Linked DNA regions of Homo sapiens: region 1 is linked to region 2. The links come from fine-mapping of genetic effects on gene expression. A gene starts in region 2. The other region holds a variant in brackets. All regions are shown on one strand. Distances are between the middles of the regions.

What was found. PIP is the estimated chance that this variant, and not a neighbour inherited with it, causes the effect. A credible set is the group of variants that fine-mapping cannot tell apart.
Region 1: its variant is the best candidate, but not a certain one, in a credible set for the expression of DUSP4 in whole blood (TOPMed, PIP 0.81).

Annotation. Positions count from the first base shown.
Region 1 is chr8:29,488,329-29,493,695 of GRCh38, reverse strand. No RefSeq gene overlaps it. Among named protein-coding and RNA genes, the nearest start is that of LINC02948, 71 kb to the left of the region's middle. RefSeq lists enhancers at 2,672-3,177, 3,433-3,492, 5,279-5,367. The variant G/A (reference allele first, on the strand shown) is at 2,246.
Region 2 is chr8:29,347,837-29,353,203 of GRCh38, reverse strand. It overlaps DUSP4 (dual specificity phosphatase 4), which reads left to right and starts at 2,520. Exons shown (of 4, transcript NM_001394.7): 1 at 2,520-3,358. The coding sequence starts at 2,926. It overlaps LOC124901924 (a long non-coding RNA gene), which reads right to left and starts at 2,230. Exons shown (of 2, transcript XR_007060876.1): 1 at 1,670-2,230. RefSeq lists enhancers at 1,603-1,712, 1,753-1,822, 2,521-3,020, 3,343-3,492, 3,021-3,522 and silencers at 2,013-2,152, 2,343-2,662, 4,233-4,402.

The DNA.
Region 1 (5,367 bases), 140 kb before region 2:
ATTGGATTTATGTCCTGGAGCTACCATGATAAATTACCACAAACTGGGTAGCTTAAAACAGAACATTTATTCTCTCACAGTTTTGGAGTCTAGAAGTTCAAAATCAAAGCATCAGCAGGGTTGGTTCCGTCTTGTGGACCCCTGAGAAAGAGCCATGCCATGCCTCTCTCCTTTCTAAGGTTGTGGCCATTCTTGGTGTTCCTTTGTTGGTAGAGAGATTACTCCAATCTCTGCCGCTTTCTTTATATGCCATCCTCCTCTCTTCTTCTTGTAAGAAGAACAGGTTTTCTTACAAGTCTCTGGATGTAGAGCCCACCCGAATCCAGATGACGTCATATTAACTAATTATATCTGCAAAGACCCTGTTTCCAAATGTCACATTCAGGGTTCTGGGTGGGCATGAATTTTGAGAAACACTATTCCATCCAGTACAGATGTTATTATCCACAGGCAAATGGAAAGGCAGGCTTGTACACATGAGAAAGCCAGAGAGAAAGACGCAGGAGGAGAGAAGAGCCAGGAGTGGAGGAGGCAGGCCAGTGGGAAGGAGGTGGGAGGGTCAATTCCAGGTGTCAACTTGACTGGATTGAGGGATGCCTAGATGGCTGGAGAAGCATCGTTTCTGGGTGTCTGTGAGGATATTTCCAGATAAGACTGGCATGTGGGTCAGTGAACAGAGAGAGGAAGGCTAGCCCTCAGTGTGGGTGGGTGCCGTCCAATCTGCTGGGGGCCTAGTTGGGACAAACAGGAGAAAGAAGGGGATGATTTATTCTTTCCATCCCTCTCTCTCACTCTCTCTCCCCTTTCCCCTCCAGAGCAAGATGCTTTTCTCCTCCTGCCCTTGGACATTGGACTTCAGGTTCTATAGCTGTCAGACTATGAGGCTTGTTCCACCAGCCTCCCAGGGCTTCTTGGGTCTTTGGCCTTGGACTGGGGGCTACATGGTCCACCTCCCTGGTTCTGAGGCTTTGAATTTGGACTGAGCCACACTACTAGCTTCTCTGGTTCTCCAGCTTGCAGATGGCCTAGCATGGGACTCCTCCATCTCTGTGATAATTTAAGCCAATTCCCTCATAAATTCCCTCTAATACATCCTATTGATTGTCTCTCTGGAGAACCCTGACTATTATAGGAGGCAAAACAGAACTCAGAGACATGTCCTGAGAACAGGAGACAACGGCATAGAAGCCAAAGAAGTGTGGGGTTTCCAAAGGGAAGAAGTGGTAAATGTTGCAGAAAAGCTAAGGAACAAAAACCAAGCAACCCAAACCAATTTTCCCATTGGGTTTGGCAATTAAAAGCTCGTGACTGACCTTCACTGCATGGTTTCAGTGGAGCGATGGGGCCGAGGTCTGATGGCCATGGGTTGCAGAAGAGAAGGGTGGCAAGGGGGTGGCAAGAGCAAAGACTGCTCTGAGAAATTTGTTTTGTGATGAGGGGCAAGGAAGGTAGACTCTAGAAGGTGTGCCAGGCAGGGGGAGACTCCTTATATATTTACTGTTTGGAAAATGAGAGACACTTAACCATAATAATATGCTGAAATAAAAGAGACCAGAGTAAAATATAGATTTTATATGTAAATGAAGGGGAAATTGATGAAACAGGAAACCTGAAAGGATAAGAATTAGGGCAGTTTGGGCAACAAGGCTTAGATAAAAAGGAGAGGCATTATGGTATAATAATATATTCAGGTTTTGTCCCCAATGCCTGGTACAGAGCCCCTAAAATCCTTGGGATTTCCTGAGTGATAGGAGTGTCTTTTGTTATTAATAATAAGTCCCTTTTGATCATTCCTGAGTTTATGCCAATGAGGTGACTTAGATAGGGGACCGAGATAGCTACAGGATGGGGATAGTCCTCAGAAAGACCAAACGATTAGAGGGCTAAAACTTTCAGGCCAGGCGCAATGGCTCATGCCTGTAATCCTAGCACTTTGGGAGGCCGAGGCAGGTGGATTACCTGAAGTCAGGAGTTCAAGATCAGCATGGCCAACATGGTGAAACCCCGTCTCTACAGAAATTAGCTGGGCATAGTAGTGGATACCTGTAATCCCAGCTACTTGGGAGACTGAGGCAGAAGAATCTCTTGGACCTGGGAGGCGAAGGTTGTGGTGAGCCGAGATCACACCATTGCACTCCAGCCTGGGCGACAGAGAGAGACTCTGTCTAAAAAACAAAACAAAACAAAACAAAACAAAACTTTCAGCCCCACCCACTGACATCTGGGAAATGGCATCAGGTCCTGG[G/A]GGTTAAGCTCTATAAAAACTACTGAAGGACAAGACATGGTGGGCTCCAGATGGCTGAAACTATGCAGGTGCTGGGAGGGTGGTGTGCCCAGAGACAGAGTGGAAGCTCCATGTCCTGCATCCCTAATGCCTTACTCTGTACATCTTTTCCATCTGCTCTTCCTGAGTAAACAGTAGACCTAAGTTCTGAGTGCCTGAGTTCTACTCATCATTCTAGCAAATTATCAAACCCAAGGAGGAGATCAGGAACCCTAACTTATAGCTGGTCACTCAGCATCCTGAGTCCCTGGGAGTACAGGCCTGGACTCCTGATTGGTGTCTGAAGTGGGGGGTGCAGTCTTGTGAGACTGAGCCCTGAACTCATGGGATCTGATGCTAACTCCAGGTAGATAGTATCAGAATTTAATGAAATTGTAGGACTCCTAGCTGGTATTCAGAAAATTGGAGACTTGCTTGGGGTGGAAAAAAAAAAAAAACCAACCCACACATCTATTAGAAGTGTTGTGTGAGGGTAAAGAGCAACTGTGTTGTTCTCTAGGCAGAGAATTCCTGGAGACAAAAACGAATTCCTGGAGGGAAGGATAAGCACAGTTGAAGAGTGAGAGGACTTGCTGGTGTTTAACTTGACGGCCCCATTCGTACTGATAAGAACAATGTCAGCACTGTTATTCATATTTGCTGTGATGGAGGGGCCAGATCAAGTGCTGAGGCTGACAAGAGGAAGCCAGCTGAGCTTCTGTGCAGAACTGCAGAGGCCCTGCTGTGGTTGGAGACCACAGATTTGCAGTCACACCCACCTGCCTTTCCTCCAACAGGGCTGCTGTTAGAAGGAATTGTTGCAAGGTCCAGCATTTGCACCCCCAAACCGCCACACAAGTACAGGCTGGTTAATGTGTTATTTTAGCAGGAGCTCGTGAGAGACAGACCTCAGAGTGTCTGCTAAGATAAATGAGTGGTCTAGTCACAATGGTGCACAGAAGTTCATGCTTCCTCACACCCACTCTGTACTGAACACATAAAAATGAGAGATAGAATATCAGAAGAGGAACCCACTAAGACACAGGTGGTCTCAGAAACAAGCTAAAGATCTCCAAAAGCCAGATGCAGATCCAAACCAAAGCAGTGTGTGGAACTGAAGCCTTCAGCCTGCAGGGTTCTGGGGCCAGAATCAGGCTGCTGAGAGGTCAGCTGCTTGAATAACAGGGACTCAACCTGTTCCTGCTTGAGGCTGAGAGGGAATCAGGCCTGACGCCACTCAAGAGGCAGCTGAAAAAAATGGCACCTGCCCAATGCCTGGGACTGTTTTAGGGAAAACAGAGGGAAAGATTCAGCCTCAGTTCCAGGACCTGTGTCCGCCACCTGCTGACCGGGACATTGGACCTGCCACATCCCCAAATCCCAGGGTGTAGAGAAAAGTCCCACCCAAATGACTATAGATGGGGTCCTGGTCCTAAGTTGAGGCCACTCAATCTTGCTGAACAGAGATGAAGACAGTAGCAGATGGGAGGCCATGGCATGTTTGAGCAATAGCAAGGGGGCCAGAGTGGGGAAGGCAGAGAAAATTCAGGGCAGTGTTAGGAGAGGAGGTGGAGGAGGAGCTGAGGATACATCATGCTGGCCCCTGAAGACAGCAGTGCTTGGGATTGGGATCCCAATGCAAAGAACAGCAGAATTTTTTTTTTAAGGAGGAAAGCACATCTGGACTAGAGAACTGTGAAGTGAATGCAATGGTTTGAAGTTGTTTTCTTTGGGCCCTCCAAGTTGAAATTTAATTCACAATGTTGCAGGTGGGGTCTGGTGGGAGGTATTTGGATTGTGGGGGTAGATTCTTCATGAATGGCTTGGTTCCATTCTCGCTGGAGGGAGCAAGTGAATTCTCACCCTTAGTTTCCATGAAAACTAAACATGGTGGTTGAACAGAGCCTGGCAACTCTTCCTTCCATTCTCTTGCTTCCTCTCTGATCTTGTGATCTTTGCACACTAGCTACTCTTCACCCTCTGCCATGAATGGAAGCAACCTGAGGCCCTCATCAGACATAGATCCTGGCGCCATGCTTCTTGTACAGCCTGCAGAACCGTGAGCCAAATAAACCTCTTTTCTTTATAAATTGTCAAGCCTAGGATATTCCTTTAGAGCAACACAAATGGACTAAGACTGTTAATATAGGAAAACTATTAAGCCAGTTTATCCAGGAATCCATTTTGAAAATGGACAATGGAGAAAAAATTTCTACTAAATATTAAAACATAAAGCCACAGTAAACAAAATAATGTCATATTAAAACATTATTAGGCCAGGCACGTTGGCTCACGCCTGTAATTCCAGCTCGTTGAGAGGCTGAAGTGGGTGGATCACCTGAGGTCAGGAGTTTCAGACCAGCCTGGCCAACCTGGTGAAACCCCATCTCTACTAAACATACAAAAATTAGTCCAGTGTGGTGGCAGTTGCCTGTAATCCCAGCTACTCGGGAGGCTGAGGCAGGAGAATTGCTTGAACCCAGGAAGCAGTGGTTGCAGTGAGCCAAGATTATGCCATTGCACTCTAGCCTGGATGACAAGAGTGAGACTCCATCTCAAAAAAACACAAAAAACAAAAAATATTATTAAGCAGACAGTTCAAGGTAACAGGCCTAAAATTCCAGAAATAGATGTAAATGTATTTAGTATAGGACAAAGTGGCATTTCAAATCTGGGGTAAAAATATATATTTGCAATACCCCAAACAATCACTGGTATAGTATTAAAAGCAAATCTGATTATGTCACACTTTTCTTAAAGTGGTTTACAATTGCTTTTGGGGTAAAACCCAAAGTTCTTGGCCTATAATATGAGGCTTCCCATCATCAAGAGCCTAACTACATTTATAACTTCTTCTCCTATACATTATCTAGCCACGAAAAGTTATAAACCACACAATACAAGACCTTCAATAAAACTATGCACATATTTTTTTCTTGATAAAACACTTCTGTACCGCTTAAGAAGTAGATAAAGAATTACTTAGAAAAATAGTCTTATTATCTGACAAAGGATAGATAGAGGCTCCTTTTACTAAAACATAAAGAAGTACCAACATTCCAAAGAATAACAGGCAAAAAAAAAGATCAATAGTTTACAAAAAA
Region 2 (5,367 bases):
GGATTTAGGGCTTCTCCACCAGCGATTACTGTCAGGTGCAGAAAGCAAGCCTCTTTGTTCTATGGGCATTTTCCTCCCCCTGGATTTGACTGTTATTTACTGGCCACGTGAGCGCCAGGCGCGGGTCCGGCGGGGAAGGCGACCCCAGAACAGGGTAGACAAAAGCTGGCCCAGAGCGCGACCCGTGCGCCCCAGGGACGTCTCCCCAGCTCCTGCGACACGCGTGAAATTGGCCCGGACCTGCCTCCTGAGAGGCTTTTCCCAGAAATGTCTTGTTAAAGCCTTTGTAAAGGAATCAGTGTTTACTTGCGCCGGGAGAGCTCCGGCCCTGGGTCCTGGCAGGCGGCGGATTTCTGAGCTGCTGGAGAGCAACCCGGGAAAGCAAAATCAGCCTTGGACTGTCGGGGCCCCTGGGGCTCCTTGCTCCTTATCGAAAGCGAGTTATTAGATAGACCCCCACAGTCCCATTCAGCAGAATGGGAAACTGGACTCAGACACCTTTTGCCCTCCCCACAGGGAGGCCACGCCGTGCGGCTTTGACCACTGATCTCCCACCCGGAGTGCCCGACGCCCAGGGTCCTGCCACCGGGCAGCCTCGGTCAGTCCACAGTTGTGGCTCCTTCCAGGGCCTGGACTAGGGTGAGCACAAGCCTTGAGCGCAACATTTAAGAAGGGCGCCGAAAAGTCAGTAATCAAAAGAAATATCTTGATGCAATGCCTCTTTAAAAGAAAAAAAAATGCAAAAAATCCATGATGAATAAAATACTAAATTTTAAAAAGAGAAAGGATCCGTGCAGTGCCATCGTAAGCCATTTTGGAGCCCGGAGCAAAAGGAAATATCACCTTGCCCAAGCGGTGCCCCTACAGCTCATCCGAGTAGGGCCCGGGGGTCGAGGCATTCGGGGCCCAGTGGGGGACGAGGCCAGTCGAAGGTCTCGGAAGTGGAGGCTCCGCCGAGCTCCGGTCGGGGAGTGCAGGGATGGCCCCCGGGACCGGAGGTGAGAGCTCGGGAAAGCCGCTCCGCCCGGAACAAAGGCATGGGGAGAGGGTGAGCTTGGGCGGGAGAGACCCGGCGGGTACCGGTGCCCTCGCTGCCTGGGTCGGGCTTCCACGCGCGCCCCGGAATGGAATACGCTACTCTGCAGCCTCCGAAACTGCGAGCGAGTCCTGTAACTCCCTTGCTCTGTGATTAATTCTCACTAACAAGACTTGGCAAGATGTCGGGCGAATGATTTTTGGCTTCTGCACGGTCCCCACCGCGTGCGTGCACAAACCCCCAGCCAAAAGCCGCCTCTGGGAAATTAAATGCAAAAGAGAAATGGGGATGGGGAGGGCTGCTACGTGACCAGGAAAAAGGGATGCCCAGAAACATGAATCGGACCCAGAGCTGCTGAAGTCCTTTCAAAAGGTCATTCTTTGCGGGTACATTTTCCAGGGTCCAGCTCCGCAACAAATGTGGACCCTGTCATTTCCTGAAAGGATAATTCACAACTATGCAAGATAGGGTGAAGACGTTTCCCAAACCCGAAAACCTTGTTTTTCCCCCGACCAGGGTTAAATAAACATCTTTTAGGAAGCGTGGACAGGAGCGCAGCCTGCTCTCCTCCCTCGGAACACCATTCCGGCAATTAATGCCTCCCTTTGGGTAGTAAAGCAACAAACCCCACACCTCACTCCGATCCTGGGCTTCGGGCGGGAGGACTTTCTCTTTCATCTTCCAAGCAGGGGGTTGCCCACGTTCTTGGGGAAGCTATAAAACTGATTTAATGGCTTTAGATGAAAATCGATCACGCTAATGCATACGCTAACGTCTCAGGAATCGCATATTCAGAAAGGACTGGCCGGGCCGAAAGCGCACGGGGAGTCTGGGGCTAGGAGGTGTCAGGCCCCGCTGGGTGGGCAGCAGCGCTCCGGTCCCCTCTCCACTTGGGTAACCGGGAAAAACCTACGGGGCTGTCACGCGGGGAAGCGCGAAGGTGCCAAGGGATGAAAGCTCAAACCCGAGCCCTGGCCTCCTCAGCCGGCTATTTCCTTTGGCGCCGCCCGCCTAGCGGCGGGGTGCAGCGGCGGCACAGGTGCCGGTGTCGGGCTGGAGGCGCGGCGCAGGCTGGGCCCGCGGGTAGACGGCGAAAGGCGCCGCGCGCTCCATTCACAAAGTCCGGGCGCTGCCCGCCGCTGGCGGCGGGTCGGAGGCCGCCTCCCTCTTCCTCTCGGCCTCGGTTTTATGAATGGGCCTGATGGCGAGCACCCGGCGCCCTGTTTACTCCGCTCTTTGTGACGTCGAGTTCCCGTGACCGGGAGCCAGCGGCCGCGCTCCATTCAAGCTCCGGGGAGGGGGTGGGAGGAGGGGCCCGGAGGGGGCGGGGAGTCAGCGCGGGGGGCGGGGGACAGCGCGGGGGGCGGGGGACGGCGCGGGGCCCGGAATGGAACGGGGCGGGGCCTGGCGGGGTAGTACCTAGCGCCCCCTCCCCCGGGAGCGCGGAGGAGCATTAATAAACCTCTAAGCCGAGGAGAAAACTCTGGCTGGGGCAGTGCGCTGAGCGCCGGAGGAGCGTAGGCAGGGCAGCGCTGGCGCCAGTGGCGACAGGAGCCGCGCGACCGGCAAAAATACACGGGAGGCCGTCGCCGAAAAGAGTCCGCGGTCCTCTCTCGTAAACACACTCTCCTCCACCGGCGCCTCCCCCTCCGCTCTGCGCGCCGCCCGGCTGGGCGCCCGAGGCCGCTCCGACTGCTATGTGACCGCGAGGCTGCGGGAGGAAGGGGACAGGGAAGAAGAGGCTCTCCCGCGGGAGCCCTTGAGGACCAAGTTTGCGGCCACTTCTGCAGGCGTCCCTTCTTAGCTCTCGCCCGCCCCTTTCTGCAGCCTAGGCGGCCCGGGTTCTCTTCTCTTCCTCGCGCGCCCAGCCGCCTCGGTTCCCGGCGACCATGGTGACGATGGAGGAGCTGCGGGAGATGGACTGCAGTGTGCTCAAAAGGCTGATGAACCGGGACGAGAATGGCGGCGGCGCGGGCGGCAGCGGCAGCCACGGCACCCTGGGGCTGCCGAGCGGCGGCAAGTGCCTGCTGCTGGACTGCAGACCGTTCCTGGCGCACAGCGCGGGCTACATCCTAGGTTCGGTCAACGTGCGCTGTAACACCATCGTGCGGCGGCGGGCTAAGGGCTCCGTGAGCCTGGAGCAGATCCTGCCCGCCGAGGAGGAGGTACGCGCCCGCTTGCGCTCCGGCCTCTACTCGGCGGTCATCGTCTACGACGAGCGCAGCCCGCGCGCCGAGAGCCTCCGCGAGGACAGCACCGTGTCGCTGGTGGTGCAGGCGCTGCGCCGCAACGCCGAGCGCACCGACATCTGCCTGCTCAAAGGTAAACGAGGGCTCCGGGCGCTAGCTGGAGTCGGGGAGATGGAGGGGGTCTTGGCGGCCTGCGCCTTATTGGCACGGGAAGGAGTCCCCGGCGTGATTCGTGGTTGCGGGGATCCCCGCGCGCCCCTTTGTGTGTGTTGGTGTGTAGGGGTTTGCAAGGTTTCTGTGCAAGTGCGAGGTTCAAGTCCTCAGGGAAAGTGCGGACGGGTTTCTCCGGTCACCTGCAATTCCGCACCGTCCTAGCGAGGCCCCGTTTATTGACATTAACGGTCCTAGCCTCGAGGATGAAGCGACTCCTCTGCGCGGTCCATCTTGAGTCCCGGGAACAGTTTCCAAGTACCACGGGGCGCGTGGGGACAAGATAGGCCTGTTGGTTTGGCGTGCTGGGGCCCTACACTGAGCCGGACCGGGAGAATCCCAGAGGTGGAGAAAAGGTGAAGAGGGGTGGGCGCCGAGGTACAATTGGCCTTGCCAGTTTCACTGAAAACAAGACCCTGGCAAATGCAGAAAGGGAGATTGGGTTGCACACACTGTGTAGAGCGATCTGTATCTGCGTTCCCGCTGCCCAACTCCAAGCTCAGCTTGGAAGGTGGCCAATCCCCGTCCCGGGCTAGATCCAGGCTCTGGGAGCGGGAGGCTGAAGGACTGGGTATCTGGGGGACGCCGGGCGGAACCGGTCCTCTAGCGCCTGCAAATCCGGGCAGCGGAGAATGATCACCTTTTGTTCAGCCCGGATTTTCGACTATCTGATGGCGGCGCGTGCCGGATTTTAGCGAGCCCTGGCGAAACTCTCGGCGGCGAGACTGTCTTGTCACATTTGGTAGTCGGAAATCCTGGAAAAATCGCGTGCTGTCCGAGTCCCTGGAGGGACCTGGCGCCCGCCACACCTGCAGGGCAGGGTGGGTCCGCGGCCCTCGGGCTAGGGAGCGGGCAGGGCGCGTGGGGTCCGGGCGCCCCCCGCCGCGCTGCGCCTCCGCCTCCCGCCGCCGCATTCCGCGCATTCTTCCGCGCGGGTAGGGTCTGCGCTTCCGAGCCCGGTAGGCAGTTCAGACCCCCCCACACCCATCAAAGAGCCGCTCCTCCCCCCCGCAGGCGCCTTCGCCGCCTCCCTCCCTTCCTTTCCTTTCCGCTCCTCTTCCGACCTGTCCACCCGGGAGGAAGGGAGCTGGAAAGGGGGCGGAAACCTCTCCCCTCCAAAAAGCACAACAAAACTGTTCAGTGCGGAGGAGCCGGGTTCGCCCCTGCCGGACAGCGGGGGGCTTTGTTCCCCGCAGTTGTTTCCTGCCCATTTGACCTGTCAGCTGCTGGGGAAACGCTGCTGTTGACCTTTGGTTGAACTGCTAAGGCGATTTTGCTGATTTTTCTTTCTTTTTCCGCGAGGGCTGTCTTTTGCTCCTCCAAATGAGCCCAGTCCCCCTCCCTTCTCCCCAAAGCGCTCCAAGAGAAAGTGCCAGGAAGGGGCTTGTCCCGGAAGGCCTGGCGGCTGAGCGGGGCCAGGTCCTGGTTAGGCCACCAGGGTGGGCGTCCGCGCCATTGTTTGAGCTTGTCGGCGCTGGTGGGAGAGATGAGGGCAATTCCTCTGGGACGCAAGTCCCCTCGAATGGCCGGGGCTGGCCGGGATGTTCCCCGCACGGCGCTGCCCTCGAGTCCCCCCGATGGAGAGCGCGGGCGCGCCTTCCTTCGCTGGCGTCCAAACCCGGGACCAGCTAGAACACAGCAGGGCTGGGACTGGGTTCCAGCCCCACGTGGAGTCTGGATTTGTTTTGTTGTGTTTTGCTTTCCTTCCTGGAAGAAATCCCGAGGGGACCGCCCTAGAGCGGCAGCTCCAGGACCTCGGCCCTTGGGCTTCCGGGGGTGCAGCCACTTAGGCCCCGCTCCCGGGGAGAGAGGGATTATTTTTTAAGATTTATCCCCAGGGCGCGCGGCATTTCCCTGTCCCTCGTGAATCCCGTTGAGAGTCCTCCCTCCCCAACCTCCTCCATTTCCCCAGCCAGACCGATTCGAGAGCCC